Linked DNA regions of Homo sapiens. The protein of the gene in region 6 purifies or fractionates together with the protein of the main gene of each other region. This does not show direct contact. Each region holds a gene or a part of one and is shown on either strand. Other genes may lie near its edges.

The links.
Region 1: the proteins of C1QTNF2 (region 6) and ARNT purify together in Homo sapiens (affinity purification with mass spectrometry; 3 studies listed by BioGRID and IntAct, with this or other methods). This does not show direct contact.
Region 2: the proteins of C1QTNF2 (region 6) and P3H4 purify together in Homo sapiens (affinity purification with mass spectrometry; 3 studies listed by BioGRID and IntAct, with this or other methods). This does not show direct contact.
Region 3: the proteins of C1QTNF2 (region 6) and P3H3 purify together in Homo sapiens (affinity purification with mass spectrometry; 3 studies listed by BioGRID and IntAct, with this or other methods). This does not show direct contact.
Region 4: the proteins of C1QTNF2 (region 6) and SZT2 purify together in Homo sapiens (affinity purification with mass spectrometry; 3 studies listed by BioGRID and IntAct, with this or other methods). This does not show direct contact.
Region 5: the proteins of C1QTNF2 (region 6) and DCAF6 purify together in Homo sapiens (affinity purification with mass spectrometry; 3 studies listed by BioGRID and IntAct, with this or other methods). This does not show direct contact.
Region 7: the proteins of C1QTNF2 (region 6) and MCMBP purify together in Homo sapiens (affinity purification with mass spectrometry; 3 studies listed by BioGRID and IntAct, with this or other methods). This does not show direct contact.

Annotation. Positions count from the first base shown.
Region 1 is NC_000001.11:150,834,520-150,839,006, forward strand, and holds part of ARNT (aryl hydrocarbon receptor nuclear translocator), read right to left. Parts: intron 1,975-4,487; coding exon 1,761-1,974; intron 122-1,760; coding exon 19-121; intron 1-18. UniProt on the Homo sapiens protein: Required for activity of the AHR. Upon ligand binding, AHR translocates into the nucleus, where it heterodimerizes with ARNT and induces transcription by binding to xenobiotic response elements (XRE).
Region 2 is NC_000017.11:41,805,128-41,809,614, forward strand, and holds part of P3H4 (endoplasmic reticulum protein SC65 precursor), read right to left. Parts: intron 2,878-4,487; coding exon 2,732-2,877; intron 1,753-2,731; coding exon 1,669-1,752; intron 1-1,668. UniProt on the Homo sapiens protein: Part of a complex composed of PLOD1, P3H3 and P3H4 that catalyzes hydroxylation of lysine residues in collagen alpha chains and is required for normal assembly and cross-linking of collagen fibrils.
Region 3 is NC_000012.12:6,831,266-6,835,752, reverse strand, and holds part of P3H3 (prolyl 3-hydroxylase 3 precursor), read right to left. Parts: coding exon 4,401-4,487; intron 3,929-4,400; coding exon 3,839-3,928; intron 2,162-3,838; coding exon 2,109-2,161; intron 2,012-2,108; coding exon 1,944-2,011; intron 1,829-1,943; coding exon 1,704-1,828; intron 1-1,703. UniProt on the Homo sapiens protein: Part of a complex composed of PLOD1, P3H3 and P3H4 that catalyzes hydroxylation of lysine residues in collagen alpha chains and is required for normal assembly and cross-linkling of collagen fibrils.
Region 4 is NC_000001.11:43,447,912-43,451,822, reverse strand, and holds part of SZT2 (KICSTOR complex protein SZT2), read right to left. Parts: coding exon 3,852-3,911; intron 3,745-3,851; coding exon 3,339-3,744; exon of another isoform or gene 3,212-3,338; coding exon 3,095-3,211; intron 1,721-3,094; coding exon 1,652-1,720; intron 1,487-1,651; coding exon 1,343-1,486; 3' UTR 805-1,342; coding exon of another isoform or gene 752-804; 3' UTR 586-751; coding exon of another isoform or gene 512-585; 3' UTR 414-511; coding exon of another isoform or gene 279-413; 3' UTR 176-278; coding exon of another isoform or gene 106-175; 3' UTR 26-105; coding exon of another isoform or gene 1-25. Other genes in the region: HYI (putative hydroxypyruvate isomerase), read left to right, coding at 1-25, 106-175, 279-413, 512-585.
Region 5 is NC_000001.11:168,005,964-168,010,450, forward strand, and holds part of DCAF6 (DDB1- and CUL4-associated factor 6), read left to right. Parts: intron 1-4,487. UniProt on the Homo sapiens protein: Ligand-dependent coactivator of nuclear receptors. Enhance transcriptional activity of the nuclear receptors NR3C1 and AR. May function as a substrate receptor for CUL4-DDB1 E3 ubiquitin-protein ligase complex.
Region 6 is NC_000005.10:160,349,978-160,354,150, forward strand, and holds part of C1QTNF2 (complement C1q tumor necrosis factor-related protein 2 isoform 1 precursor), read right to left. Parts: intron 1-4,173. UniProt on the Homo sapiens protein: Involved in the regulation of lipid metabolism in adipose tissue and liver.
Region 7 is NC_000010.11:119,841,301-119,845,787, reverse strand, and holds part of MCMBP (mini-chromosome maintenance complex-binding protein), read left to right. Parts: intron 1-2,361; coding exon 2,362-2,534; coding exon of another isoform or gene 2,535-2,540; intron 2,541-3,192; coding exon 3,193-3,316; intron 3,317-4,487. UniProt on the Homo sapiens protein: Associated component of the MCM complex that acts as a regulator of DNA replication.

The DNA.
Region 1 (4,487 bases), on a different chromosome or scaffold from region 6:
CCTCAGCTTGACACTCACCTCATTCGGCAAATAAACGATCTCCTTGAGCCCATACACATTCTCATGGAAGACTGCTGACCTTCCTTTTTCACTGTTCCAGTCTTTAGATCCAGGATACGCCCTGAAGGAAGATGTGAAGAGCAGTCTGGAGTGCATTTTTGTGTGTGGGGAAGAGGGGGAGAGATACTGAAGGCAAAGATAAGTAAGCATCCTATTCATGCCCTTAATCTCCTTGCTTATAACAGAACTGACCAAGCAGGAGATGAATTTTTTTTCAAGCCTAAAATACTTCAATTATCATCAATGAATCTCACTCTTAAGTTCAAAGGCAGCATTGAAAATAACATTGTGCAAGGAAAAGTAGGAGTGGAAAGTAGTAGTAGAAAACAAGAGGCAAGGCTATATTCTCATAGCTGATTATCTGTATACACATACAGACATACATACAGAGTAAATGTCATTGGTTGAAAAACAAGTACTTTTCTGTAGTCCCAGCTAATCAGGAGGCTGAGGCAGGAGGACTGCTTGAGGGCAGGAGTTTGAGGCTGTAGTGTGCTATGACTGTGCCTGTGAAGAGTCACTGTACTCTAGCCTCAGCAATAAAGCAAGACCTTGTCTCAAAAAAAAAAAAAAGAATAAAAAGAAAAAATTTTAAAAAGAAAAAAACCAAGTAATTTTATATGTTATAGAAACATATAGATCTGTTTGTCTTCTTTATTATACAGAAACGAAGAACAACTTTTGGGGAAAAGGAAGAACTAGAAAAATGAAATCATAAAAACATAAAGGAGGGGAAAACTGGTCAAGTGTGGTGGCTCATGCCGATAATCCCAGCCCTTTGAGAAGCCAAGATGGGAGGAGGAATGCTGAAGGCCAGGAGTTTGAGACCAGTCTGGGCAACAGACAGAACCTGTCTCTACAAAAAATTTAAAAATTGGTCAAGTGTGGTGACATGAACTACTCCTAGCTACTCAAGAAGCTGTAAGCAGGCAGATTACTGAGCCCAGAAGAGTTCAAGATTACAGTAAGCTATGATGTGCCACCGTACTCCAGCCTAGGCAAGAGAGAGACCCTGTCTCTTTTTTGGGTGGGAAAAAAGGAGGAAAACTAAAGATCAACAACACTAATATGAGTATATTGAAATTTCTTGCATTTTAACTACCAGTTTTTTTATCTGCTTCCACTTTAAATTTTTTTCTAGAGTTGCTCAAGAATAGATATGACTTGTTTCCTCTAGCCAAACTCTGGCCAAAAGACTGAACATAATAAAATAGGGGAGAAAAAAAGAACAACAGTACAGATACAAACAACAACAACAACAACAACAGAAAACACCTTATACATTGACCAATAACCATATCTATAGAATAAAAAGCTGTTATCATTGAACCTAGCACAAAGCCAAGCACCAGGAGGTAGAAAAAATACCAGATAATTATCCATACAAATGAGATAAAAACATGGATAATTCTTTTAGAACGGAAAAAAAAAAGTATTGTAGGTTTGGCTTTTACTGTTCTATTTATACCAATATTAAGATAAATGTAAAATATTATCACCAATGAAATATTTTCTAAGGCTGAGCCACAAAGTAGATAATCTCATATGGATAAAAAGAACTGACTATATTCATTAAAGTAGAAAATTCTTGAAGCCTTGCCAGAGTCAACAAACCAATTTAACAGCTAAAACATCTCTTAAGTCTCAGGAAAAAAACAAGAAAGGACTTCTCATTCATTTCCCATACACATAACTCTCACCTGTCAGGGCATTTTCTGAAGTGGAAAGCTGCTCACGAAGTTTATCCACATCATCTGGGTGCACCTGATCATAGAGTGTGCTGCCAAACCATTCAGACTGTGGCTGGTTCAAAACAGGAGTCACGGAGTCAGACACATACACCACCCTGCCTGTCTCACATGAGACAATAAACAGAAAGCCATCTGCTGCCTCCAAGATCAAATGTTTCAGTTCCTGCGCAAGAAAAAGAAATAGAAGTTAATATTTTACTCTGAAAAAACAAGTATTTCTATTCACAGGAAGAAGTAAGACACTTCAGGCCACATGCATCTCTCCGTAAGCAACTGCTGGTTCACACCTGATCCACAGCCACAGGTTTCCACCCTAAATGTAGTTCATCGATAAGAAAGTTTTTTCTAATACATGTTTCCTCACTTTCTCTATGTCACTATCCACCTCTTCCTCTCTATCTCAGGATTCAAGAAGAATAAAAAGGCTTGGGCTAGGCACAGCGGCTCCCGCCGGTAATCCCAGCACTTTGGGAGGTCAAAGTGGGAGGGTCACTGAGTCCAGGAGTTCAAGACCAGCCTAGGCAATGGGGCGAAACTCCATCTTTACAAACAAACAAAACAAAACAAAACAAAAACAAAAACAAAACTAGCCAGGTGTGGTGGCACACGCCTGTAGTCCCAGCTACTCCGGAGGCTGAGGTGGGAGGATCACCTGAGCCTGGGAAGCAGAGGTTGCAGTGAGCCGAGATCATACCACCACACTCCAGCCTGAGCGACAGAGCAAGAGACCCTGTCTCAAAAAAAAAAAGGCTTACCATGAACAATAATTGACTTCTTAATTCCATCCTCTCTGGTCTCTTTTTAGGATCTTGCTTGACAAATATTCCCACTTTCTCTCTTTCCCTTCAGGCCTATAAAAATGATCAAGTTTTCTCAATTCTAGATAAATCTTCCCTCAGTTTGACCCACCTCATCTCTCTTTTTCAGCAGCAAGCTTATACTAAGAATAATGTTATATTCACTGGCTTTATCCTCTTACCTTTCAATTATTTCTCAATCCCACTTCACTCTCACTCTAAACTACTGTTTTCCTGTTTGGTTTGGTTTTTGTTCTGCCAGGAACAGCATACATATATTTTTAATGAGGTTACTAATGTCCTCCTAATTACCAATTCAAGTCCCTTTTCCTGGGTCTTCATCACTTTATTCAACCTCTCTGCAGAATGTGACAATGTCGTCCATCTTATCCTTTAAATTTTATTTTTCCCTACCTTCTTCTATGAGACTGTACTCCAATTTTTGCTTCCTCTTCTGTTTCAGACTTCCTTTCCTTTGTTCAAGTCTTAAATGTAGACATTTCCAAAGTTCATCTTAAGCCCTCTTTATTAATACCATACTTTCTTCCTGGGAAACCATATTCACTCTTCCCCACTACGAAATAATAACCAAGTCTATAGCCCTAGACATGACTAACGTTTTTTCCTGAGCTTTCAGCAGACTTGAATTTCAAGTATCTGTAAAATATTTATAAATATTCTACCAGCAACTCAACATCAACATCCCAAAACCTGAATCATTATTTCCCTCTTAAAAAAAAAAACCTGCCGTGCTCTTCCAATATTCTTAACAGCATCCTCCTAAGCTAGAAGCCTCAAAATCTAACTATTCTCTCACATTCCAGTGATAATTCAGTTTTATCGATTCTACTTTCCAATGCTTTGTCACTGTCCTAGTCATCTTTTACCAAAACTAATTAAGTAGTCGCCCTGCTTTCAATCAATCCTTAAAATGCTACCAGATCTAATACATTTTTTATGTCTCCCCACTGCATAAAAATTAAAATCTAAATTCTTTAACACCTAAACATTCCATCATTAGATCCCAGCCTACCTTCCTATTATCTACCAAAAACATGCTAAACCACTTGACTTTCTTTGCATAACCCAATTATTCCACACTTCTAGGTTTTTGCTCAAGTGCTTCCCAAAATCCACAACACTACTCCCCAACTCATTTTCCATATCTGCATTTTACAGGATTCATTACAGCACTTCTATTATAGAACTAGTTCTATGTTTAATTTATTTATTTACATGTCTGTTTCCACCAGAAAACCATTTGTCTCACCATTCTTTCTATTTCTCACAGCACAACACACCTGGTTTGCCCACAAAAGGTGCATAACTGGAGTCTGTTGAATACTTGCACATGTACTGTTAGAACATATTAACTATTTCAATGTATATAGCTACAAAGTATGTAGTTTTAAGTAGACCATCCTATTTGGAAAATTCTTATTCCATTTTCTCAAACTATATTCTCTCCTTCTTTCTAATCATTTGATTAAATTGGTGGCATTAAGGGAATACTTGATTGATACTGAAGTAAATTTTTTTCTTCCTTATACCTCCTACATTTTCCAAATTTTTCTGCAATGATCATGTTATTTTAATAACCAAAACAGAACATGGCTTCCTTACCCTCAGAAGTCTTCCCTAACCATCCTCACTCAAGTCTAGCCATTCTATTCACTTTAGCCATCCCTTCAGTATGTCTATCTAGTCCCACATAAAATTACTAATTAAAAAATACAATTCCTCTCTTTATGCATTTTCCTGTTATTTTCTGTGATATCCTGCCACTCACATACTTATATTCAGATGAAGTTCCTGAAAGGCAGAAAATGTTTACGCCTTCTTTTTTTCATAGTGATCACATGTAACAGAGCACATCCCT
Region 2 (4,487 bases), on a different chromosome or scaffold from region 6:
ACAAAAAAAATTAGCCGGGCGTGGTGGCAGGCGCCTGTGGTCCCAGCTACTTGGGAGGCTGAGGTAGGAGAATGGCGTGAGAACCTGGGAGGCGGAGCTTGCAGTGAGCTGAGATCACGCCACTGCACTCCAGCATGGGCGACAGAGCGAGACTCTGTCTCAAAAACAAACAAACAAAAAAACATACTTGATCTCACTTAATTCTTTCTCTTTTTTCGAGACAGAGTCTCAATCTGTCACCCAGGCTGGAGTACAGTGGCGCGATCTCGGCTCACTGCAACCTCTGCCTCTGGTTCAAGCCATTCTCCTGCCTCAGCCTCCCCAGTAGCTGGGATTACAGGTGCCCACCACCACACCTGAGTAATTTTTGTATTTTTAATAGAGACAGGGTTTCACTATGTTGGCCAGGCTCGTCTTGAACTCCTGATCTCAGGTGATCCCTCTGCCTCGGCCTCCCAAATTGCTGGGATTACAGGCATGAGCTACCATACCCGGCCAGATCTTGTGTTATTCTCACCACAACAATGTGAGATGGGCATGATTCTCCCCATTCAATGGATGAAGAAACAGAAGCTTGAGAGGTTGCCTGACACTTGTTTGGAGGCCACCCAACTGGTAAGTAATGGAGCCAGGTCTGGCTAGTTCCTCATCCTGGGTGCTGACGGTGTAGATTCTGCCCTCCTCCTCTGGGGTTGGATGGGTGGGGGCGTGGGGGCATGAACAAAGGAGAGGATACATAAATGAGCACTGAGCAGCAACACCTCAGAGAAATTAAGGCTGTCAAACCCTCACTTGAAATCAATGTTAATAGGGCCGGGTGCGGCTGCTCACGCCTGTAATCCCAGCACTTTGGGAGACCGAGGCAGATAGATCATGAGGTCACGAGGTCGAGACCAGCCTGACCAACACGGTGAAACACTGTCTCTACTAAAAATACAAAAATTAGCCAGGCGTGGTGGTGCACGCCTGTAATCCCAGCTACTCCGGAGGCTGAGGCAGGAGCATCGTGTGAACCCGGGAGGCAGAGGTTTCAGTGAGCTGAGATGACACCACTGCACTCCAGCCTGGGCGGCAGAGCGAGACTCCATCTCAAAAAAAAAAAATAAATAAATAAATAAAATAAATCAATGTAATACAATACGGTCCTTCTGTCCTGAGGTCCTGCATTCATTCATTCACTGGTTCATTCAAACTCAGTTTCTGAGCCCAGGCTCTGTGCAGGATGTGGGAGAACAGGGAATAATGTGGCCCTGTGTCCTGCAGTGCGGTTCTCCTGGATACTGGCTGGAGAAGGGGCCCAGGGCTGAGATGGACGAGGGCTGCAATCACCCAGGTCCAGGCCACAGGTGGCCAGGGAGGCACACAGGTCAGAGTGGGCACTGCTAGCCCAGAACAAAGAGCCAGGGCATGCAGCAAGGGCTTCCTGGAGGAGGCACCATGTGAGCTGGGCCTGGGAGGAACAGGATTGAGACATGTACAAAAGGAGGACATGAGAATACTAAGGCTGGGGAAGGAACGGACAGTCTAGACAAGGAACAGGCAAACCTCTCTTCTTCACGACAGCTGACCACCAGGGGCTGGGGCTGAATTCTGGCACACTGGTGGCCCCAGGAAAAGGTCCAAGGTGTCCCCATCACAGCCCAATCCTGGAAAGCAGGAGGCACTCACCTCATCATCTGACTGCAGGTACATGTGGGTGAACTCCAGCAGCTCCCGCAGCTCGGCGGTCTGGTTGTGGTAGAGCATGGCCTCCTGGAAGGAGGGAAGGACGGGGTGGGGGGTGAGCCATACCCTGTTGCCAGATGGCAAGAAGCCAGGGCTCCTAGGATCTGGGCCCACTGGCCCTCTTCTAGCTCAAGGATCAGAGAATAGGTATCAGCTCACAAGCTCATCAGATCATCGTGGCTGCTTGGAACACTGGGTTAAGGATTCTGAGAGTTTGGTGACAAAGAGTCCCTCAATCGATTAGCAATGTCTGCCACTGACAAGGAAGGCAGGAGTGGCACCATGTGCCCCATATTTGCCAGCCTGGCCCTCAACTCCAACAGATTTCCTCCATTGGTTACCTAGGGTGTTCCTGGGAAAGAGGGACAAAGGTCAGCAGTGAGGGTAATGAAGGTAGGGAGGGGAGCAGGTAGGAGTGGATGTGTACCTTCATACCTCCCTCGTCTGGACACTGCTGGTGAGGTGGCAGTATCACTGCCATTTTGCAGGTGAGGCAATAGATTAGGAAAGGGCCATGGTCTTCCCAGGACCACACAGCAGTGGGGCTGGGCTCTGAAGCCAGGACTCTAACCTCAACTCATATTCTTTCTTTCCATTTCCCATCCTGCCTTCCATGGAAGCCAGGAGTTTATTTTTTATTATTTATTTATTTATTTTTCTTTTGAGACGGAGTCTCGCTCTGTCACCCAGACTGGAGTGCAGTGGCGCGATCTCCGCTCACTGCAAGCTCTGCCTCCCAGGTTCACGCCATTCTCCTGCCTCAGCTTCCCGAGTAGTTGGTACTACAGGCGTCCACCACCATGCCTGGCTAATTTTTTTTTCTTTTCAGTAGAGACGGGGTTTCACCGTGTTAGCCAGGATGGTCCTGATCTCCTGACCTCGTGATCCACCCGCCTCAGCCTCCCAAAGTGCTGGGATTACAGGCATGAGCCACCGCGCCCGGCCGCCAGGAGTTCATTTTTTACAAAGTGCATATCCAGCAAGTGCCCCAGAAAGCAGTGCCCACCTCCCGGGGCTGGAAGTCCTCCTCTTCCAGGCCCCAGCGAGCCCGGTGGAACCGGTAATACACCAGGTTCTGCTGCATGACGCTGTCCTTGGGGTCGAAGAGCATGTAGCTGGCGGCGCTGCGGGCAGCCTGGCGCACATCATTCACTGCAGCAGGACAGGGGTGAGGAATTGCTCTGGCACTTCCCCTTCAGAGTCAACTCCATCTTCCAGTTCAGTCCAGCACCCCTGCTACCCAGCCACCTCCCAGAATACCTAATGGGCTCCTTATCCCACCCAAGCATAATGCCAGCTAGCATGTAGTGGGCACTTACCCTATGCCAGGCCCTGACTAACTCATCTAAGCCTCACTGTTATTGTCTTTTTATTGTTTTTGAAACAGGGTCTCACTCTATCACCCTGGCTAGAGTGCAGTGGTGCAATTATGGTCACCTCAAGCTTGATCTCCCAGGCTTAGGTGATCCTCTCACCTCAGCCTCCTGAGTAGCTGGGATTACAAGCAGGCACCACCACACCCATCTAATTTTTTGTATGTTTTTGTTTGTTTTGAGACAGGGTCTTGTTCTGTCACCCAGGTTGGAGTGCAGTGGTGTGATCTCGGCTCACTACAGCCTCTGCCTCCTGGGCTCAAGCAATCCTCCCACCTCAGTCTCCCCAGTAGCTGGGACTACAGGCACGCGCCACCATGCCTGGCTAACTTTTTGTATTTTTTGTAGACACGGGGTCTTGTCATGTTGCCCAGGTTGGTCTCGAACTCCTGGGCTCAAGCCATCTGCCTGCCTGGGCCTCCCAAAGTGCTGGGATTACAAGTGTGAACCACTGTGCCCAGCCATGCCTACCTATTACTGTCATCCCCATTTTACAGTCAAGAAATCTGAGTCACAGAGAGGTTAGATAAATTGCTCAAGCTCACACAGCTGGAGAATGATGGCTCTAGTGAATTAGAGGCCCTTAGCCTCTCTGCTATGTGTACCCAGGAAGGGTCTCCTGGCCCCTGGGTTCTCAGCCCCTCTGCTCTGACTCCTGGCTCTGTCTGAATCTTGGCATCTCCGAGCTGCAGGAACACTGGAGGCTGTCCATTCCAGCCCCAGTGGATGCCAGGATCTCTCCAGTGAGGAGAGCCACAAGTCCTGGTGCCACTTTTTATTAGTCATAAGACCAACAGCCCCTTGCCCTATAAGCCTCAGTTTCCCCATCTGAAAAATCGGTCCAGTAATGCCAGCTGCATGGTGTTGGTGAAAGGACCACATAAGATAAAGTGACTTATAAACTCTCAAGTGTTGGCCGGTCATGGTGGCTCATGCCTATAATCCCAGCACTTTGGGAGGCTGAGGCAGTGGATCACCTGAGGTCAGGAGTTCAAGACCAGCCTGGCCAACATGGTGAAACCCCGTCTCTACTAAAAATACAAAAACTAGCTGGGTGTGGTGGCAGGCACCTATAATCCCAGCTACTCAGGAGGCTAAGAGAATCACTTGAATCCGGGAGGCAGCGGTTGCAGTGAGCCGAGATCGTGCCCCTGCACTCTAGCCTGGGCAAGAGTGAAACTCCGTTTCAAAAATAAAAATAAACTGTCAAGTGCTCTGCAGTTGTTGGTTGTCTAGTCATTTGCCCAAAAGACCCTCTTCTTCTCCCTGAGGCTGCTGTCTGTTCTCACTCAGAAGCCTCTCACCTGCCCCAGACTCCCAGGGTGCCTTCCCCATATTCCCACCACCCCTAGACTTTCCTCCTATCACCCAGGGTCCTCAATACTGAAG
Region 3 (4,487 bases), on a different chromosome or scaffold from region 6:
CAAACTCCTTGGGAGGCCACAGAAGACACTCACTGTCCCTCGGCCTTCATGTGTGGGCTCTCTCCCTCTTTCCCTATACTGTCTCTTGGTAACATACACCCTGATGATTCTATGTTCTTTTTTAATTAATTAATTAATTAATTAATTATTTAAAAAAATTTATTTTTCGAGGCGGAGTTTTGATCTTGTTGCCCAGGCTGGACTGCAATGGTGCGATCTCGGCTCACTGCGACCTCCGCCTCCTGGGTCCAAGCGATTCTCCTGCCTCAGCCTCCCCAGTAGTTGGGATTACTGGCACCTGCCACAATGCCCACTAATTTTTTTGTATTTTTAGTAAAGACCGGGTTTCACCATGTTGGCCAGGCTGGTCTTGAACTCCTGACCTCAAGTGATCCACCTGCCTTGACCTCCTAAAGTGCTGGGATTACAGGCATGAGCCACCACACCCAGCCAGTGATGATTCTGTGTTCTAAGAGCTTTATCATGTGCTAACTCATTTAATCCTCACAACGACACTATGACAAAAACACTATTATTATCCTCATTTTATAGATGAGCAAATTAGGCTCAGAGATGTTAAAATAAATTGCCCAAGATCACACAGGTAATGACTATGGAGCTGGCCCTGCTCTCACCCCTGTGCTTGACTGCAGTTCCCAGAATGCACCATGCTCTTCTCCCTCTTAGACTGATTCCACCCCCAATCGCCTGACTAACTCATCCTTAAGACTGAGCTCAAATACCACCTCTCCAGCAAGCCTTCTATAACTGCATTTCAGTGCTTCTATTTGACATACTTTTTTTTTTTTTTTTTGAGATGGAGTTTCGCTCTTGTTGCCCACGCTGGAGTGCAATGGCACGAGATCAGCTCACCACAACCTCCGCCTCCCGGGTTCAGGCGCTTCTCCTGCCTCAGCCTCCCGAGTACCTGGGATTACAGGCATGTGCCACCACGCCTGGCTAACTTTTTTGTATTTTTATTAGAGACAGGGTTTCTCCATGTTGGTCAGGCTGGTCTCGAACTCCCAGCCTCAGGTGATCCACCCACCTCGGCCTCCCAAATTGCTGGGATTACAGGCATGAGCCACCATACCCAGCCCAAAAACATACTTCTTTTACCAAACTTACCACCTGCTTATATTATGTATTTCCTTGTCTGTTTCCACCTCTACACTTGAGCTCCCAAAGGGCAGAGTCTATAATCATCTTCCTCTCCCTAGAACCTAGCAGTTTCTAGTGTATAGCAGCTACTCAGTGAGTATATTACTGAATGAGCACTAACCTAAGATAAGGGTTGAAGCTTCATAAAATGGTAGCCTCAACCTGGTGAGTATGAGTCATTCAACCTAAACTAGGAGGGAAAGAAAGGCCTGCGTGTCTGCTGAGCCATCAGCCAAGCCAGTAACTAAACTCTTGGCTAACCAAGCAATCCTTACCTGCACACTCATCCATTTTTATGCCTTCATGTTTTTTGTTTTGTTCTTCCTATCAATTTCTAGCAAAATTCATTTGTAAAGAACATCCACCTATGTCAGCTAAATTAAGACGAGACGGAACTTATCCACAGCTGAGAGGCAGTGGTAAGCACAGTCCCGGTTGGATAATCAGGACAGGCAGAATGAAGGGGGCAGGCCAAGAGCAAGGGAACAGGTGATTGTATCCAAGAGTCTTGAACGAGCTGATGAGCTTGCAGGTCTTCCTACCTTAGCCAGCTGCAGCAGCACCCCACACTCGGCTGGGGTGAGCAGCCCATCCAACACCGCCCGCTCCGACCCATTCAGCTGCCTGGAATCCTGGGTCAAGGTCACACCCTCCAGGAGAAGGACATCTGCCAGGGAAAAGACAGAGCAGAGGGGGCTGAGCATCCCCTAAGGGCAGGCAGAGCAGTAGCTGGCAGCCCCCAGACCCTCCAGGCTCCTGCCTTCTCCCTCCCAGGAACTCACCCTTCCAGTAGGTCAAGGGCTTTGGCTTCACGGGCTCATGGTCCCAAGGCCTCTTCTCTTGATCCTCTCTCAGGGGTGAGAGATGCGCTCAGTGGGTGCCCAGGACAGTCCAGACCCAGCCTCCCAGCTCGGGCCAAGCCCCTCCCACCATGGGGCATATCCTACCTGAGCTTTTCTCTAAGTGCCTCAGGGATGAGAGCTGCAGGGGTCCAGGGGTCCTGCGACAGTCCAGAAAAGCATCATCACCCACCAAGGTCAGCCCCTGGAATCCCTGACATTAGAGCTGAAATATCTCATTAAGTTTCTTCTGTTTCCAGAGAGGAAGACGGAGGTAGGAAAAGCCCGGGACTCAATGTCAGGAGCCCTGGGCAGTGGATCAAACTGTAACAACAAGTACAACTATAACTCATATAGCACTTACTATCTGCTAGGGGCTATTCTAAGAGCTTTATTCATGGAAATGGAATTTATCCTTTAAAGTTCACAACAGTCTCATGAAACAGAATATTAAAGTGCTCATTTTGTAATTGAGAGCCCTGAGACACAGAGAAGTAAAGTAACATGCTCAAGATCACACAGCTACAAATGACAGGGTTAGTTGTTTTTTGTTGTTGTTTTTTGTTTTTTGTTTTTTTGAGACGGAGTCTCACACTGTCGCCCAGGCTGGAGTGCTATGGCGCGATCTCAGCTCACTGCAACCTCCGCCTCCTGGGTTCAAGCGATTCTCCTGCCTCAGCATCCCAGGTAGCTGGGATTATAGGCGCCCGCCACCACGCCCAGCTAATTTTTTGTATTTTTAGTAGAGACAGGGTTTCACTATGTTGGCCAGGCTGGTCTTGAACTCCTGATCTGGTGATCCACCTGCCTCGGCCTCCCAAAGCAGCGTTAGGTTTTAAACTAGCTGCAGGCCGGGTTCCGGTGGCTCACGCCTGTAATCCCAGCATCTTTGGGGGTCCGAGGCGGGTGGATCACCTGAAGTCAGGAGTTCAAGACCAGCCTGGCCAACATGGTGAAACCCCATCTCTACTAAAAATACAAAAATTAGCCAGGCAAGATGGCGGGCACCTGTAATCCCAGCTACTCAGGAGGCTGAGGCAGAAGAATCGCTTGAACCTGGGAGGTGGAGGTTGCAGTGAGCCAAGATCGCACCATTGCCCTCCAGCCTGGGTGACAGAGTGAGACTCTGTCTCCAAAAATAAAAATAAAAATAAAAAAAACTAGCTTCAGAGTTCACACATTTAGCCAGTCGTTCTCAAGCAGGACACTTCTGCCCCCAGGGGTCATTAGGCAAAGTGTGGAAACATTGATTGCCATGACTCAGGGGCTGTCAATGTGCTATTGATCTCTACTGGGTAGAGACCAGGGAAGCTGCTGAACACCCTCCAAGGCATAGGACAGGCCCTGCCCTCTGCCCCAACAAAGAATTATCCAAAATGTCAGATCCAAAATATCAGTAGCGCCAGGAAGACTGAGAACGCCTGCTTGATGCCCTAGTCCTAGCCATAGATAACCTCCGCCCCGCAGTTTCCTCTCATAACTACAAGAAGAGAAATAAAAGCAGCAGTAACAGAGCTTTCTATATTTTGTTATCAAATGATGTGGTTTCAACAGCCCTGTGAAACAGATGTGATTATTCCAACTTACAGGTAAGGAAATTGAGGCAGAGGCAAGTTGAAGTTCAGAGATGTTTGGGGCAGAGGAGGACTGACATTTAGGCCTGCGTGACCCCAAAGCCGCCCTAACTACAGGCACACTGTCTCCGTCCCTGTAAAACTGGGATGGCAGACTCTTCTCCAAGCCTCATGGTGGAAAAATGGAAAACTCTGTTGCAAACCAAAGTGCCATCCCTCCTGGGAGTGCGGAGGGGTGAGATGGGCAGAAGTGGAGTGACTCACAGGATCCTTGAAGCTGGTCCCCAGGTGCTCCATGGCATAGTAGAGCTGCCTCTTCTCCCCCAGGGATCGGAGGATGAAGCGCTGGATGTCCTGAGGGTGAGATGATGAGCAGTGAGGGGTAGCTGGAGGAAGGCAGGGAAGCGCCGGCTCTAGGGCACTGCCTGGGTGCTCCATGCTCCTTGAACCTGGCACCATGCCCCCCGGTTCCTCTGTTCAACGTTCCCCCTCAGCAGCTTCAGAGCATCTGGACTTAAACTGGAAAGGGTGTAGGGGGTGGGAGTGTGTGTGAGTGTGTGGGTGTGTGTATGCATGAGTTTGGGGGCTGGTGGCAGGCAGGAGTGAAGTAAAGGCAAGAGAGACGGGGCTGAGGGCTGGAATCGGAACTCCAGGCTGCCGTGGGGAGCAGGGAGTGGAGACGGAAGTCAGATGCTGGACTTGGAGTCCTTTGGGTGACTAGAGTGCTCGGGTAAGAGGCCAGCGGGGGGTGGGGGTCCAGGTTACTTCTCAGGTCTATTTGTTTGATTTGGGGCTACCTCCCAGGTGAGCGTGGAGAGGGGATTACCTCTCTGGGTCCGAGGCCAGGTCTCGGCTCTCCCAGCTGGGCCTGGTACTGGTTCAGAGCCCTCTTGGCAGCCTCATCCTCCGGGTA
Region 4 (3,911 bases), on a different chromosome or scaffold from region 6:
AAGACCCAACCTCCAATTACAAATGGTAAGTGGAAGGGGGTACTTCGCAGATCGGAAGGAGGGCGGGGCCTGCGGGGTCTCGGAATGTAGTATCCTCTTCCCTAGGACATATTCCACTGGCAGATCATGGATGGGAACCTGACAGGAAACATCCGGGAGTTCCTGCCCATTGTTGGTGAGAGGACCTTCCTTTGCCCTCCCACCCTTTCAATCCCCACATCTGTCCTTCAGGCCCTGGCAGGAGCCTGGACCCCACATTTGTCCACATCTGTCCCCAGGGCATGTGCAGGTGGCACAGGTCCCAGGCCGAGGGGAGCCCAGCAGCCCCGGAGAGCTGAATTTCCCCTATCTGTTTCAACTGCTGGAAGATGAAGGCTACAAAGGCTTCGTGGGCTGTGAGTATCAGCCTCGAGGTGAGGCGTGGCCCTGGGGAAGGGAGCTCTGGAGGGACCCGGACAGGGGCTGTTTTCTCCTTGTGGGCTGAGGTGCCGAGGCCTCCCTCTCCCTGCAGGAGACACAGTAGAGGGCTTGAGTTGGCTACGTTCATACTGGGATAGGCGGGGCCACCCAGAGGCTGGCCAGTGAGGGCCCGCACACCACCCACGTGCCTCCAGACAGCGAGTGACATCCCATCTCCTCCTCTGCATTAAAGATGACCTGCTGAACATTGTCATATGTCTCTGTAATGGGGTGGTGGGACACATAGTGTCTAACACTTCAGTTTCTCTGCTGCTTCCCTCCCATTGAGAAGCCAGTGCCAGGGTTGCTGTGAAGATGGGAGAGCTTCTGAACCCACCTCATTAAAGGATGAGAAACCCAGGGTCCGAGAGCAAAGGGACTTGACGGTGGCCACAAGTGCTTCAAAGGCAGAGCTGGGATTGGAACCCAGGTGTCATCTCGATGGGAATGTCCAGCAGTGATGTCCAAGTGGGAAGTGAAGACCCGAAGGCTCAAGGGACACAGGTGGCTGACAGTGGTCAAAGGCTAGGGGGCAGGATTCAGGCAGAGGAGCTCTAGGGGGTGTTTGCCACCCTGTGTGAACTCCCGAGACTCTACCAGGGGGGCCGAAAGGAGTACCCCAGAAGGGCCCAAGGGGTCCTCGGGGTTGACCTGACTCTCTGGAGTCCTGGATGGGTCAGTGGCTGTGGGTGTTTGGGGAGGGCGGTTCCTGCTGCCAGGCTGGGGCAGCAGACCCTCAAGACATAGTTACAAAGCCTTTGGTGTCACTCAGTGTCTGGCTTGCCCTGGGGCCCAGAAGGGCTGGTCAGTCCTGCCTCTGGCAGGCAATCTGGTAGGCCCATGATTCAAGGAACAGTGACATTCAGTGGTCCAGTCCACTCCCTCAGAGGAGGCGGGTCCAGAGGGTGAAACAGGCTGTGTTGATGACAGACTCCAGGTGGTGGTAGGTGGAGACCAGTTGGGCAGGGGGGCTCTCGCTGTCCTGGGGCTGTACTGGGAAGGGCTCTCGGAAAACCACTGTCAGAGACTGTGGGGAACACGGTGGGGATGCACTGGTGAGAGGAGGGCATGGGTGGGGATAGGAGGCAGGGCTCAGAAAGGGTGGGCACCCCAACCTCAGCAGGCTCCGAGGTGGAGCATTTGGGGTACGGCCTCCCATGAGGCTGACACAAAGCCCCCCACTCGTTCTTACCGTCTTTCCTAAGTGGGAGTCCAGAAACACTAGCACAAAGCAGTCAGTGAACTTCTGATTCAGCACAACCTGCAGTGAAAGATGAGGAGGGGACACAGACCCTACAGACCCTCCCACAGGGCATCCTGAGGTGAAGGGAGGATGAGGAGAGGCCTACTTCCATCTCCACACCTCACCCCGCCTGCACCCTGAGGTCACATAGGACCGTGTCTCCAAATTGAGCCTCAGTCCTCATCCTCGCTGGCTTGCTGGTCAGCCTGTCTGAGCTGCATCAGAATGAGGGGTAACAGTTGATCCTGGAGGCCCCACACAGAGCCTGGCACACTGAAGCCAATCAACAGAGAGTGCTGTACCCCTGGCACAACCTCCTTGCCTCCTGTCCTGGGACTCCTCTCTGACCACCCCTGGGATTGTCTTGTCGTCCCCTTATGTCCATCTGCTCCCTAACGCTCTGCTTGGTGATCCATCCCGGGATGATTTGCTCTCCCAAGGCTTCAGTTACCGCCTGTTCACAGAGCTGCTGCCTAGGACTCTCCTGAGCTCGAATCCCTGATGCCCACAGACCTTGCAGACAGTGAAGGGCCTATGGACCCCAGACTCAGCTTGCCCCAAGCTGGGCTTGTCACCCTTCCCCAAAACCCACTCCTGCTCCAGCCTTCCCACCACCCGCAGGAGCACCTGCCTCCATTCACAACCGCCGACACTACTGCAGCCTCATCCTAACTGACCTTGGCTTCTCTGGGAGACCCTTCCTGCACCCTGAAATGAATCCTCTGCACAAGCACTGTGCTGCAGGACCCCTCACCTGGCTCCACCTCCTACTTTCTCACTTGAAGTCTTCTCTTGTAATGCCTCCTCTCTTGAACCTCAGCTCTGGCTGGGCCCATCTCTGTGGGCTCCTTAATGCCCTGTGCTCGTGTCCACCACCACAGTTCTCTCTACCTGTCCTTTACAGCAGTGCTTTCACGCCTCAGTGTGCACACAAATCACCTGGGGAGACTGTCAACCTGCAGATCCCGAGTCAACAGTCTGAAATGTGGCCGGAGAGCCTGCATTTCAGCAAGCTCCCAGGTGCTGCGGCTGCTGGTCTGTGGACCACACTTTAAGTAACAAGGCTTCAAAGTCCAAGGGGTCCTTTCTGGGGCTCCAGCCTACTGACAAAGTTCTGACAGCTCCTTGGGTTGTCAGTTCCAGAGCCTGGCCCTCAGGATCTCAAGCCAAGGCTTGTATTCTTGGTGAGTCTTTGAGGGCAGAGCTGCTCAGAGAATCACATGCTGTAGCTCGATGCCCGGTACTGGAAGGGTTTTACATGTATCTGTGTAGTCCCGTTCTGTCTAGGCCTCCCTCCAGAGCAGAGCTTGTTTGGTCAGGCTGAGGGGCACATCTGTTTGGTGAGGATTTCTGCTGTGTTTCCCTTTTCAGAGGAAGCTCAAGGGGACTTACCAGGTACTGAGTTCCCAAGTCTGGGCTTTGGAAATGGCGACAGCTCTGGGGGAAGCGGCTTAGGAGAACTTTGATCAGGCTCTGGTACCAGGAGACCGTCATGGATAGGAAGCAGTCCTGAGGGAGGAGCCACAGGCCTGAGTCTTCTGTGCCAGTCACCTCAGATTCCTGTGCCCTCTGCCCTGGCTGCCAGTGGAATTCCTGGCACCTATCCCAGCTCTTTCGGGAGCCCACAGTTCCTTACCAGCTGGGGGTCGATGTCCCCAATGGATTTGGCATGGACTGCTTCTAGGAGTTCCTCCAGCTCTGCCAGGGCCAGGCGCCCCCCTAGCCGCAGTCGATCAGGCCCCGGTGGCTCCAGCAAGAAGAGGCGCTTCCAAAGGGTGTCCCGACGGCAGTGCCCTCCAGCCAGCCGCACCAGCTGAGCCAGCCGTGCTCGTGCCATGCCCACCTCTGCAGCCAGTGGTGGGAACAGAGGAGCCGGTCCAGGCGCTAGAATAAGCCCTGAGGCCTCCCCAGGGCTGCCAGCTGAACTCCCAGGAGCCTCTGGCTCAGGGGGCAGTCTGGGTGGCTTCCGGAAGCGGCGCATGTCAGCAGTGAGCCTGGGGAAGAGCTCTCGCTGGCTGGTGAGCACCACGAAGAACTGTAGCCTGGGGTGGGGAGCAGGGCAGGAGAGTGGTGGTTGTAGCAAGAGACACACAGGGCAGGGTGGGGCAGGCTGGGAAATGGGCATGTTCAAGGTAGGGGATCTGCTGACCGCAGAACGTGCCGCTCAGCCTCTCCTTGCTCCTCAAAGGGTGCAGCACAGTGACAGACA
Region 5 (4,487 bases), on a different chromosome or scaffold from region 6:
AGCAGAAGTAGTTAAAAGTTTGTTTTTCAAAGCAGGTAAAATTGGGAAAAGCAAGAATTTTTAAAGTGATATTCTTGAACATATTGATCAATTATAAGTTTTTAGGAAAACTTAGCAAGAAGACTCTAGCTTACATTCAGCTTCCACTGAATCTCAACTAATTCTAGTTGTTTCTTAAATATATTTATGAGTAAAGTATTTGGAACTTTATTTTTTAAAGCTATCTAATGCATTTTAATTACTGCATTTCAAATTGCTAAATTCCTTTCAATATTTAATGTAAGTATTAAATGTGACAATCATTTGAATTATTGAAGAAGAAAAAATATCTTTGGTGGTCATGTGATGATTATTGAAACATTATGCAGTACTTTTACTCATAAATTATTTATAGGAAGTAAGGAAATATTTTTAACTGGGAGATTATTGAGAGAATTTTGGTTGACTAAGCTATAGATAATTAGAATATTTCCATGTTATCAAGACATTATCACTATTGAGAAAAATGATTTGGTGTTAGATGTAACATCTGAAGGTTATGACTGTAGTTGTTCTGATAACAGCTTTTTCATTATTCTGGAGTTCAACGTTTCAGGAGTAAGGACTTAATTTGTTTCTGTTTTTGTTTTTTGTCCAATCTCTTTTGCATTTGCCATAGCCTAAGTCCAAATGTGTTTGTGAATATTGGGAATTGTCCATTGGGTGAATGTAGTAGATGGAAATGTCAGCTTAGGACCATGATTTCTATTATTTCCCTGCATAGAGATAGAGAAAATGATAAAGTATACTTCTGTCTATGCTTGCCTTGCTGTGGATACCTTTTTATGTAAATGTTTATCCCTTTACATGTCCTCCCTCATTTTTACTGATATCAAAGAAACGGACAATGGGAATATGAAAATTTGCTACGCTCCATCTCTGGTTGAACCTAATTGTCTGCCTTCTCTTAGTCTACAGTGGAATCACTGAATGATAATGAAGAAAGTTATGACCACAAATTTCAATGGGTGCTCAACACTGTGCATCAGAGCAGCCTCACACTGTTGCTCTCCAGCTGTACAAAATGACTATTTTACACTTTCATGTCTCTCAAACTTTAATACTTCCCTTCATCCCCGCCCCACTTCCAGATTCTAACCTTTCATTCACAATGAAAAGTACTCGTTTTCCTACTGTCAATAATTTCCCAGCTTTCCAACATCTGTACTCACATTGTGATAGAAGCAGAAAGCTCCTATCAAAAGCTAGTCAATGTAGTTGCTATCCCTTTCCAGCTTCTCAAAGATTTCGCCCCTTCTCTTGCATTATCATTGCCTTTTTTTGCCAAATTGTTTCTTTTGGCCTTAACATGCTCTTATTATCTCCTTTCTTTAAAAATTTTCTCTTAATTATCTCACATTCCCCTTCAGCTATTGCCTTATTTCTCTGCTGCTTTCGTAATGAGAATCCTCAGAAGAGTTGTTGATAGATGCTCTCTCCATTTTCTTGCCATCCTTCATTTATTTATTAACCAACCCCCATCTGCTTTTCAACCCCCTTTTCCTCTGAAACTTTTAATCAAAGTCACTAGTGACATTCACCAGTTTAAAGGATATTTCTCTGTTAGTACCTTACTAGATTTTTCGACCCGGTTGCATTTAACATAGGCTGTCACTCCTTCTTGAAACACTTTCCTTTCTTGGTATCTATGATATCATATTTGCCTATTTACTCTTATTAATTCTGGTGGGTTTTCAGTAACTGTTGTTCGTGTTTCTTGTTCTATCTCCTTCTGAATATTATAATCAAACCCCTTAGTTTGGGCTCTCTTCTCTTCTCTTTACATACACTCTTTCTCTGGGTGATTGTGTCAGTTCCTCATAGCTTTTAATATCTCCTGTAAATTCATGACTCACAAATATATATATCAGCAATCTGATCTTCTACCCTGAATTCCAGACCCTTATGCCTGATGTCTGACTGCTATTTTGACAGTATGTTTTTGTTATTGTTGTACATCTTTTTTTTTTTTTTTTTTTTTTTTTTTAAAGACAGTCTCACTCTGTCACCCAGGCTGGAGTGCAGTGCACAATCTCAGGTCACTGCAGCCTCCCCCTCCTGGGTTCAAGCAATTCTCCTGCCTCAGCCTCCCAAGTAGCTGGGATTACAGGTTCCTGCCACCACACCCAGCAAATTTTTGTATTTTTAGTAGAGATGGGGTTCCCCATGTTGGTCAGGCTGGTCTTGAACTCCTAACCTCAAGCAGTCCATCCGCCTCGGCCTCCCAAAATGCTGGGATTACAGGCATGAGCCACTGCACCCGGCCTATTGTTGTACGTCATAAATCTACATGTTCAAACTAAAACTTAATGCAGCCTCCTACCCTTCCTGTTCCGTAATTGGCTCCTTCTTGGTCCATTTGCTTATTTGAATAACCTGTGAGTTTTTCTTGATTCCTTCCTTTTCCTCAAGTCCCATGCCAGCTCATCAGCAAGTTCTTTTGTTCCTGTATCTAAACTATAACCTGGGTCTTTTCATCTCACCATCATTTCTTGTCTCCTAATTAATCTGCCTGTACCTACTGTTGTTCCATTATAATGTATTCTCCATGCAGGAGCCAGAATGAGTATTTTAACATGTTAAATCAGATTATATAACTTTGCTGTTTAAATCCCTTCAGAAGTTCCTAATTGCATTTGGAAATACAACTACAAAAGAAAAAAAAATCAAACTCCTCACTGTGGACGTATAAGAATTTATATGGCCTGCCCTTCCCTGTCTCTCTAGCCTCATCTCATTCAATTTTCTCAGTACTTGATGATTGTTACACTCTAGATGTACTACTGATTTCTTTCGGTTATCAGAGAATTTCCGTGCCAAATTCTGCCCTGCCCTGCCCTGCCCTCCCCCGCCCCACCCCGCCTCCACCCTGCCCCCACCCCCTCCCCTCCCCCCTCCCTCCCTCCCTTCCTCCCACTTGCTTGCTTTCTCTCTCTCTCTTTCTCTCTCTCTTTTCTTTCTTTTCTTCCTTCTTTTCTTTTCTCCTTCCTTCCTTTCTTTCTTTTTCTTCTTTTTAGACAGAGTCTTGCACTGTTGCCCAGGCTGGAGTGCAGTGGCGTGATCTCGGCTCACTGCAAGCTCTGCCTCCTGGGTTCACGCCATTCTCCTGCCTCAGCCTCCCAAGTAGCTGGGACTACAGGCGCCTGCCACCATGCCCGGCTAATTTTTTATACTTTTAGTAGAGACAGGGTTTCACCGTGTTGGCCACGATGGTCTCAATCTCCTGACCTTGTGATCCGCCCTCCTCGGCCTCCCAAAGTGCTGGGATTACAGGCGTGAGCCACTGTGCCCTGCCATTTTCTTTTCTTTCTCTTCTCTTCTCTTCTTCTTTCCTTCCTTCCTCCCTTCCTTCCTTCCTTCCTTCCTTCCTTCCTTCCTTCCTTCCTTTCTTTCTTTCTTTCTCTCTCTCTCTTTTGTTTCTTTCTGTCTCTCTCTCTTTCTTTCTTTCTGTCTCTCTCTCTTCCTTCCTCCCTCCCTCCCTTCCTTCACTTCTTCCCTCCCTTCCTTCCTTCCTTCTTTCCTCCATCCCTTCTTTCCTTCTCCTCTTTCTCCTTTTTCTCCTTTCCCATCTTTCTCTCTTTCCTGTCTTTTCTTTTCTTTCCCTCTTTCCTTCTTACACTTTGTTCTTAGTGTTATTCTCTGTATGCTTGGGAAGCCCTTGTCCTGGCTTATCACTTGGCCAACTTCCTTTTCCTTGAGTCTCAGCTCAAATGCCATATAAGACAAGTCTTTCATAACTACCCTAGGTAAAGTCCTCTTTCCTTTTTCTTCTTGCTGAAATTTTATTCTCTTCTATATAACCCTGTTTATTTTGTGAAAAGCAATTATAAAAATTTATAATTTTCTTTTACTATGATAAGCTCTCTTGAAGACAGGATATTGTCTATCTTGTTGTCTCTGAGTAAGCATCTTTTTTCCCCAACAATATTCACCCTCTAAAGATACGATTAAAAGTGTGATGAGACATTTTGTTATCTTTAAGCTGATATAGACTAGATAGGGTATATTTAGCTTTATTTTAGTCTTTAGATTATACTTTTAGCCCCAGTCATTTACTCTGGCTGTTTCCATTAAGTTTCCAAAATTTGGTAACACCTAGAAGAGAGATGCTGTGATTAGCTGTCTAACCATTTATCATTTTGGATCCATTGTTTGCCTTTGACTGTCTAGACCACATAGGACTGAGTAGATAATTGTTCTTAGGTTGTTCTGAAGACATTTTAAGGTAACTTACAGAAATACTTTAAAAAATTGTCTCATTATATATATATATATTTGTTTGTGCTTTTTCACTCATGTATATATGGGTGAATATGGGTATGAAAATAATTAATTGAAGCAGTGAGTGAGTTGAATACGCAAAATGAATGCCCTGAAGAATGGTAAATCTAGAGGGGTCACAGTGTTGGCTTTGGAGTTTTGTAGCTAAATTAGGAAGGTAAGTAGAC
Region 6 (4,173 bases):
CAAGAATCACTGTGGATCAGGGCAAAAAGAATAACTTGTAACAGTTCACACCCTTTCCTTTTCCTGCCTTCTAAGGAAGGGTCTGGTCTGTCTGCCAGCTCAATCCTTCCATGGGCTGCGCTGGTAATGGGTTGAGAAGAGAACTGGAAAAAGCCTCTTGATTTCAACACGTTGATCTTAGTAAAATCCCTGCCTAGTGCATATAAGCCCTGCCCACGTGTACAAGGATTTTATTGCAGCATTGCTTATAATAGCAAAAAATAGGAACAACTAAATGCCCATCCAAAGGCAAATGATAAAAAACATTACGGTCCATCTATACTGTGGATTTCTATGCAGGAGTTAAAAAAAAAAGTAGAGTTACGTGTGCTCTATGAAACCTTCTCTAACATACACTAAGAGGAAAGAGCAGGTGGCCAGACCCTTTGTGTTAAAAGGAAGGCAGGCCGGGCAAGGTGGCTCGCGTCTATAATCCCAGCACTTTGGGAAGCTGGGACTGGAGGATTGCTTGAGGCCAGGAGTTTGAGACCAGCCTGGGCAATGTAGCCAGACAGTCTCTACAAAAAATACAAAAATTAGTCAGGCATGGTGGCATATGCCTTTAGCCCCATCTACTTGGGAGGCTGAGGTGACAGGATCCCTTGAGCCCACGAGTTCCAGGTTACAGTGAGCTATGATTGTGTCACTGCATTCCAGCCTGGGCAACAGAGTAAGACCTTGTCTCTAAAAAATAAAAATTAGAAAAACAAAAGGAATGGAATCCACAATGCCAATTTTTTTTTTTTTTTTTTGAGACGGAATCTTGCTCTGTCGCCCAGGCTGGAGCACAGTGGCGCGATCTCCGCTCACTGCAAGCTCCGCCTCCCAGGTTCACACCATTCTTCTGCCTCAGCCTCCTGAGTAGCTGGGACTACAGGCACCTGCCACCACGCCCGGCTAATTTTTTGTATATTTAGTAGAGATGGGGTTTCACCGTGTTAGCCAGGATGGTCTTAAACTCCTGACCTCGTGATCTGCCCACCTCGGCCTCCCAAAGTGCTGGGATTACAGGCGTGAGCCACCACACCTGGCCCACAGTGCTAAATATTTCTACACCCATTTAAACGCATAGAAGAGTGCTTGGCCTATAGCAAACATTCCTAAATACTAGCTGGCATTCCCTGCAGAACAATTCCCCCAGTTGTGTTTTCCTTTAGAAGGCTTTTTGATGTTTCATACTCCAATGTTTCATAAAATGCACATTTCTCTCAATCCAACATTTTTGGCTACTGATTGCATAAAATCAATTTAGTTTATGTCCCCTCAACTCAATACAACATTTTAAGCAAAACCTATATGGATAATGACTTGAGTTCACTCGACACAAGGTTGTTAGAACCATATGAACTGGGTCAAGGAAGTAAAGTTTTAGGCATTTTACATCCTAACAAGTTACTTTGTTTCTTATACATTTGTATGTAGGCATTTCACTGTGTTTTAGAGTTTTGAGTTAATCTGTAATGCATCTGAATTTTTCCTATTTTACATAATTCGGAAATAGGTTTCCAAATTGCATTTTGTTACTGAACACTTGATTTTCAGGAACAGAGTGCTTATGTTAAGTGCCTGACAATGCCTGGTATTATTAAATACATATGTAAATATATAGAAAAAGGCCAGGAAAGATACATACCTAACCAATTAATAGTGGTTACCTCTGGAGGGTGAGGGAAGGATGAGAAGGGGTAGTAAGTAAGGAGGACTTTTGCTTTATGTGTATTGTTTGAATATATTACAATGAGACTGTATTTGTATATTACTCATATAATTAAAAATAAACAAAAAGAATGGGAAAAAATAAAACTCAGAAAAGTCACAAAGCTATTTCTTGAAAAAATGAAAATAAACAAAAGGTGGGAAAAGGGGCCAAGAGAAGAGGAATAGAGACAGAATCTTTTTTTTTTTTTTTTTAAAGATAGAGTCTCACGCTGTTACGCAGGCTGGAGTGCAGTGGCGCGATCATAGCTCACTGTAACCTCAAACTCTTGGGCTTGAGTAATCTTCCTGCCTCAGCCTCCTGAGTAGCTGGGACTTCAGGCACACACCACCACACTTAGTTAATTTTAAAATTTTTTGTAGAAATGGTGTCTCCCTATGTTGCCCAGTCTGGTCTCAAACTCCTGGCCTCCCAGTACTCTTGCCTTGGCCTCCCAAACTGCTGAAATTACAGGCATGAGCCACCACGCAGCCTCCAAGTCATTTTGACTTGGGGTTTTTGGCGGGAGACAAATAGATAAAAAAGCTTACCAGGAGGTCCTACCATGTATTATATAATGTGCTTTCCTCTTCTTTACCTTTTTTGAGAGACTTTGGGAAAAGCTGACTTTACTCTTGAAAGACTTTTCTGGAGGTGAATTTGTATGTGTGGTGATGGCGGGTGGTTGGATGTTATCCTGAATTGGCCCCAGGGTGACAAGCTTTGTTTGAGTTACATGCGCTGGGACTCTCCCAACACTGCCTTCCTTGGTGTGGTGGCTTCCTTCTCTGCAGAGACTCAACACACAGCAGAACAGATGGCCAAAGGCAGCCCCAGTACATGGTAGAACTTCCTGGTAAGCTTTATCTATTTGGGGAAGTCAACAGCAGAGACTCTGTCCCTCAGGATCCATAGGCAAATCTCAGGGAAAACTCTAGCTGGCCTGCTTGGAGCACATGTCCAGACCTGAGTCTGCCGCCGTGGTCAGGAAATTGGATATCATGATACCAGTGCCCAGCACGCTGGAAGACCCACCCCAGTTAAAGCTATGATAGTTACTTTTATACTAATCTCCTGGGGAGGAGGTACCTTTGAAGGAATTAGTTTGGTGTGGTAGGAAAAGACCTGGATTTGGAGTCAGCTATCTGCATGCTATGTGAGCTCAATAAGTCAATTACAGGGTGCCTAACATTTATTGTATGTCTATGCTGAGACTGGTCCTTCATACATTGTTTTATTTCATCTTTACCACAACCTTGTGAGACAGGTGCTATTATTATCCATATTTTAGAGATGAGGAAACCATGGTTTGGAGAGAAGTTAAGTAGTTTGTCAAAATCAGTGTCCAGGTTTGTTTCCAAAGTTCACGTTCTTGCGAGGATGACATTTTGCTATCAACTGAATCACTCTGACTCTCAGTATCCTCATCTGTAACATGGGGAAAATAAGAATCCCTCCGGCACACGATATGGATGGTCAGATGGGCAACATGTTCAAAAGTGCTTTGTCAATATTAAAATGCCATACAAATAAAAATTATTATATTTCTCTACTGCTTAAAATGTAGGCTTAGGGATGCTGCTGACACTGAAAAGTGCTTGGTTGCTGGGGTGAAAGTTTGGAGATATAAGGAATGTCACAACGGAAAGGTCTGTAGAGTATATCCATTCTGCTCGCCGTCTGCCTGGCATCCCTTCCTTTGGGGAGTTGCCCTTCACCATTTCATTTCATACGGTCCTAGCGGGGCTGTCAGTCACAATGACTGACTGCCCCCACCACCCACTCACACACACGCAGGGGTGGGTCCATGAGCCTGCCCTGCAAATGGAGGCACCTCACCTCCTTGGTCAAGGGAATTGGTCCAGGATACGCATGTGGCCAAGGAGAATTGGCTGTTCTGAGATTTGCTCTGTGGATGAAGCCAGGAAGATGTGGGCCGGAGCCCAGCAGTGCTATTTCAGAACTTCTAGCCTTTGTGAGGATACAACAAACACAGAGAGAAGCAGAGCCGTGACAATGATATTTGAGCTCCTGGACTCAGCTATTCCTGGAGCTTGGCTCTTGGACTTCTCAGGCTTTTTTTTTTTTTTTTTTTTTTTTTTTTTTTTTGAGACACTGTCCTGCTCTGTTTCCCAGGCTGGAGTGCAGTGGCACGATCTCAACTCACTCCAACCTCTGCCTCCTGGGTTCAAGCAATTCTCCTACCTCAGCCTCCAGAGTAGCTGGGATTACAGGCATACACCACCAGACCTGGCTAATTTTTTGTATTTTTAGTAGAGATGGGGTTTTGCCATGTTGGCCTGGCTAGTCTTGAACTCCTGGCCTCAAGTGATCTGTCCACCTCGGCCTCCCAAGTGCTGAGATTACAGGTGTGAGCCACCGCGCCTGGCCTGATGTCTCAGTTTTATGGGCTAATACATTCCATTTGGGACTATAAA
Region 7 (4,487 bases), on a different chromosome or scaffold from region 6:
ATTGGTAACCCATACCACTACAAAACAGAAACCTAGTAATTAGAGTTCAATACATTTCCAGTTCATTTTTATTTTAGAATGCAGCTGTGTAGTCAGAGCTATGTTCCACTTACTCAGGTAACTTTTCTTCCCCTTCAGTGTGATTTCATTATTTATTTTACTTAGAAAGATTCTCAGAGGTGTCATTCTCGGCTATCCCCATTCCTGCTGTCTGTTCCCACCCAGCCTCCTTAGGGAACCACAGTTTCTGGTTTATCCTTCCTGTATTTATTTTTTTACAAAAATATGAAGATACGTATACATTTTATTTCTACCTTTTTCTTCTATAAAAGGTAACATGGTATATATACTCTTACACTTTTTAATTTTTTTTATTAACAACATATCTTGGAAATCTAGACCTTCCTCATTCATTTTTGTTTTGTTTTGAGATTGCCAAAAGCAAGGGCTGATGTCCCTCATCTACACCAGAGTCCTCTTGTTGAATACCGGACATTAATCATCTTAGTTTCTGTGTAGGATGAACTTAACATTTTTCACAGTTAAAAAAAAATGGTACAAAACAAAAATTTTAAACAACTTTAAATAAGCTTAACCGTCCCTTAATAATAGTATATGAGATTGTTCATCTTGGCAATTTCTGATTGTGATGACTTTCCTGCTTTAGTTACTTCACTATTGATGTAGTTTAGTTTAGAGGTTGTATTAGGGGTCTCTAAAGGGTCAGAACTGATAGGATAGATGAATATATGAAGGGGAGTTTATTAGGAGAATGACTCACATGATCACAAGGTAAAATCCCACAATAGGCTGGGGAGCAAGGAAGCCAGCCTGAGTCCCAAAATCTCAAAAGTAGGGAAGCCACCAGTGTAGGCTTCAGTCCGTGGCTGAAGGCCTAAGAGCTCCTGGTGAACCACTGGTGTAGGTCCAAGAGTCCAAAAGCTGAAGAACTTGGAGTCTGATGTTTGAGGGCAGGAAGCATCCAGCATGAGAGAAAGGTGGAGGCGGAAGACTCAGCCAGTCTGCTCTTTACATGCCTGCCTTTATGCTGGCAGCTGATTAGATGCTGCCCACCCAGACTGAGGGTGGGTCTGCCTCTCCCAGCCCGCTGACTCAAATGTTAATCTCCTTTGGCAACACCCTCACAGACACATCCAGGAACAATAATTTTCATCCTTCAATCCAGTCAGATTGACAAAGTATTAACCATCACAGAGGTTAAGAGCACAGACAGGCAGGCAGCCTGGGTTGGAGTCCTGACTTGGCCACTTACTAGCTATGTCACCTTGGGCTTGGTTTCCTCATTGTAAATAAGGGTAGATGTGAGGTTTTGGTGAATTTGTACGTGTAAGGCATTGAACGTTGTCTGTCACATGGTACGTACTATGGAAAAGGTTATTATGCTTGTATTAAAAAATACAGGAGTATGAATTTATTACTTCAGTGTCTATAGATTCTATAAAGTCAAGATCTAAAAGATTAGCTATTTGTTTTGGTCGTCTCACAAATCTATCATCTGCAGATTTATTTAGCAAGTCTGAAAAATTCATACTTTCATTGCTTGTCTACTCAGTCTTCGAGGGATCATGTAAGAATTAAATTTAGGAAAAACAATTAGCAAGATAAGAGATGAATGGATTCTCCACACGCTGAATAATAGATACCAGATGGCTTTTGAGAAAAAGACCCCAGTTTTTGAGATCTGCTGTCAAGTATTCGATGTCCCGGCCAATAGTTCAAGGAGTACCTGTGTTTTGAAATAGCCTTATGAGTGACATCCTACATTCCATTTATTGAAGTGCTGAATAACAAATATTATTGTTTCTGGCCAGGCATGGTGGCTCACGCCTGTAATCCCAGCACTTTGAGAGGCCAAGGCAGGCAGATCACTTGAGGTCAGGAGTTCGAGACCAGCCTGGCCAACATAGTGAAACCCTGTCTCTACTAAAAATACAAAAATTAGCCAGGCATGGTGGTGTGCACCTGTAATCTCAGCTACTCAGGAGGCTGAGGCATGAGAATCGCTTGAACCCAGGAGGCAGAGGTTGCAATGAGCCAAGATCGCATCACTGCACTCCAGCCTGGGCAACACAGTGAGACTCCATCCAAAAAAAAAATAAAAATAAAAATACCGTTCTTGAAAAATTGAATAAATGCATTATTTCATGATATGTCTTAACAAGCCTGAAGTCTGTGTGATGTAACACTTTAGAATGAGAGGCCACTTTCTGTTCTTTAAGGAGATGTACAGGTGGAAATATTCTTGGCTTTAACTCTAATTTTGTTTTCCAAGATGCACATTATTTTTGCATCTGTGCAATTGATGTCTCTCTAAATTGAAACTTTATCACCTCTCCACAGGGATGCCTCTGCACTGCTGGATCCGATGGAGTGCACAGACACAGCAGAGGAGCAGAGAGTACACAGTCCTCCTGCTTCATTAGTGCCGAGAATTCATGTGATCTTAGCCCAGAAGTTGCAACACATCAACCCATTATTGCCTGCCTGCCTTAACAAAGAGGAGAGCAAAACCTGTAAGTGTAAGTGTTACAGCCTAGTCAACTATCGACTGTTAGCCTCAGTGTGTCCAGAGCTGCCTGTAACGTGCTCATAGTGGAATTGAGAGTCAGGTCTTCATTCCTCACAATAAGTGTTTTCAGTAATCTCTCTCTCGTTGCCCCATTTTTCTCTTACATTAATTCTCTTCACTGAAATGAGGACAAAAGAGTATACAAGGCTGGGTGCAGTGGCTCACGCCTGTAATCTTAGCACTTTAGGAGGCCAAGGTGGGTGGATCACCTGAGGTCAGGAGTTCGAGACTAGCCTGGCCAATATAGTGAAACCCTGGCTCTACTAAAAATACAAAATTAGCCAGGTGTGGTGGCGTGTGCCTGTAATCCCAGCTACTCGGGAGGCTGAGGCAGGAGAACTGGAGGCAGAGGTTGCGGTGAGCTGAGATGGCACCATTGCACTCCAGGCTAGGCAAAAAGAGCAAAACTTGGTCTCAAAAAAAAAAAAAAGGAGGATGCAAACTGCCTTATTTTTAAGATTAGCATCACTTACTGACGGATATGTTAAGCTTTACCTACTGTCGACTGAATTGTGCTTTGCTCACGTAGTTATTTTTTTACCTAAGACACTTGAGAGGAACTGGAGTGTGTGTCCTGACTCAGGTCTTCCTTTCTCCTTCAGTTGTTTCAAGTTTCATGTCCGAATTGTCTCCAGTCAGAGCAGAACTTCTTGGGTTCCTTACTCATGCCCTTCTGGGGGATAGTTTGGCTGCTGAATACCTTATATTACATCTCATCTCCACAGTGTAAGTGCTGTATCCTGGTGGGAATTAGGGGAGTTTGGTGTGTGTGGAAGTGGAAGAGCGGGAAGATTGCTGGTGTCATTTGTGTGTTTTCCTTATTGGGCTTCATCACATGGTTTTTATCTGTCCAGTGTTAACTGTTATACCAAATCACAGACAAATTCCTTTTCTCACAGTTCACATTTAGCATTTTGATTATGTCCCCTTAAATTTTAGAGCCAAAATCAGATAAAGCAGTGGTCCCCAACCTTTTAGGCACCAAGGACCCATTTCATGGAAGACCATTTTTCCATGGACCGGAGTGGGGATGGTTTCAGTATGAAACCGTTCCACCTCAGAACATCAGGCATTAGTTAGATTCTCATAGGGAACACACAGATGTGCAGTTCACAATAGGGTTCGCGCTCCTGTGAGAGTCTGATGCCACTGCTGATCTGACAGGAGGCGGAACTCAGGCGGTAATGCCCACTCATCCACCCCTCACCTCCTATGTTGTGGCCCGGTTCCTAACAGGCCATGAACCAGTACTGGTCCACGGCCTGGGCGTTGGGGACCCCTGAGATAAAGGACCTGGCTGATGAGTAAAATGAGCTGTTTTATCCCTTTTGCATTCTGAACGCTCTGTTTATACATCCCAAGGCGCCCACGTCATGTGCACGTTTAACGTGGACATTGACACTAGCACCGCATCCCTTGACTCCACTGTATTTCTTTGTTTCTCATTTTAAAACTAGTGTGGGCCTTTGACAAGTTCCAAGAACATAAGGAGGAAAATGCACATCATCTGTAATTTCACCACTTAGAACCTCCGTTAACCTTTAGGTACATGTTCATTGGTTTTTGTTTACATATGTATACATCCTTGCATAGGTCTTAGTTACACTCTAAGCACAGATGCGTGTCTTGTTTTCAGCAGTTGATATATATTAAACATTTTCCCATCATAATGCTTCATGAACTTTGTAGTGGCTGCAAAGTATTTCACTATGCAGTTGTACCATACTGTAACCATTTCCCTAAATGTTAGCTTTTCCTAGCTTTTCTCTATTATAAAGTTGCAGGAAACATCTTTGTGCTGTAAATCTTATCTTTTCTCAAATCAGTCTGTGACAGTAGTACATAATGGTTGAGAGCACAGGCTCTGGAACCAAACTACCCGGATTCATATCCCAGC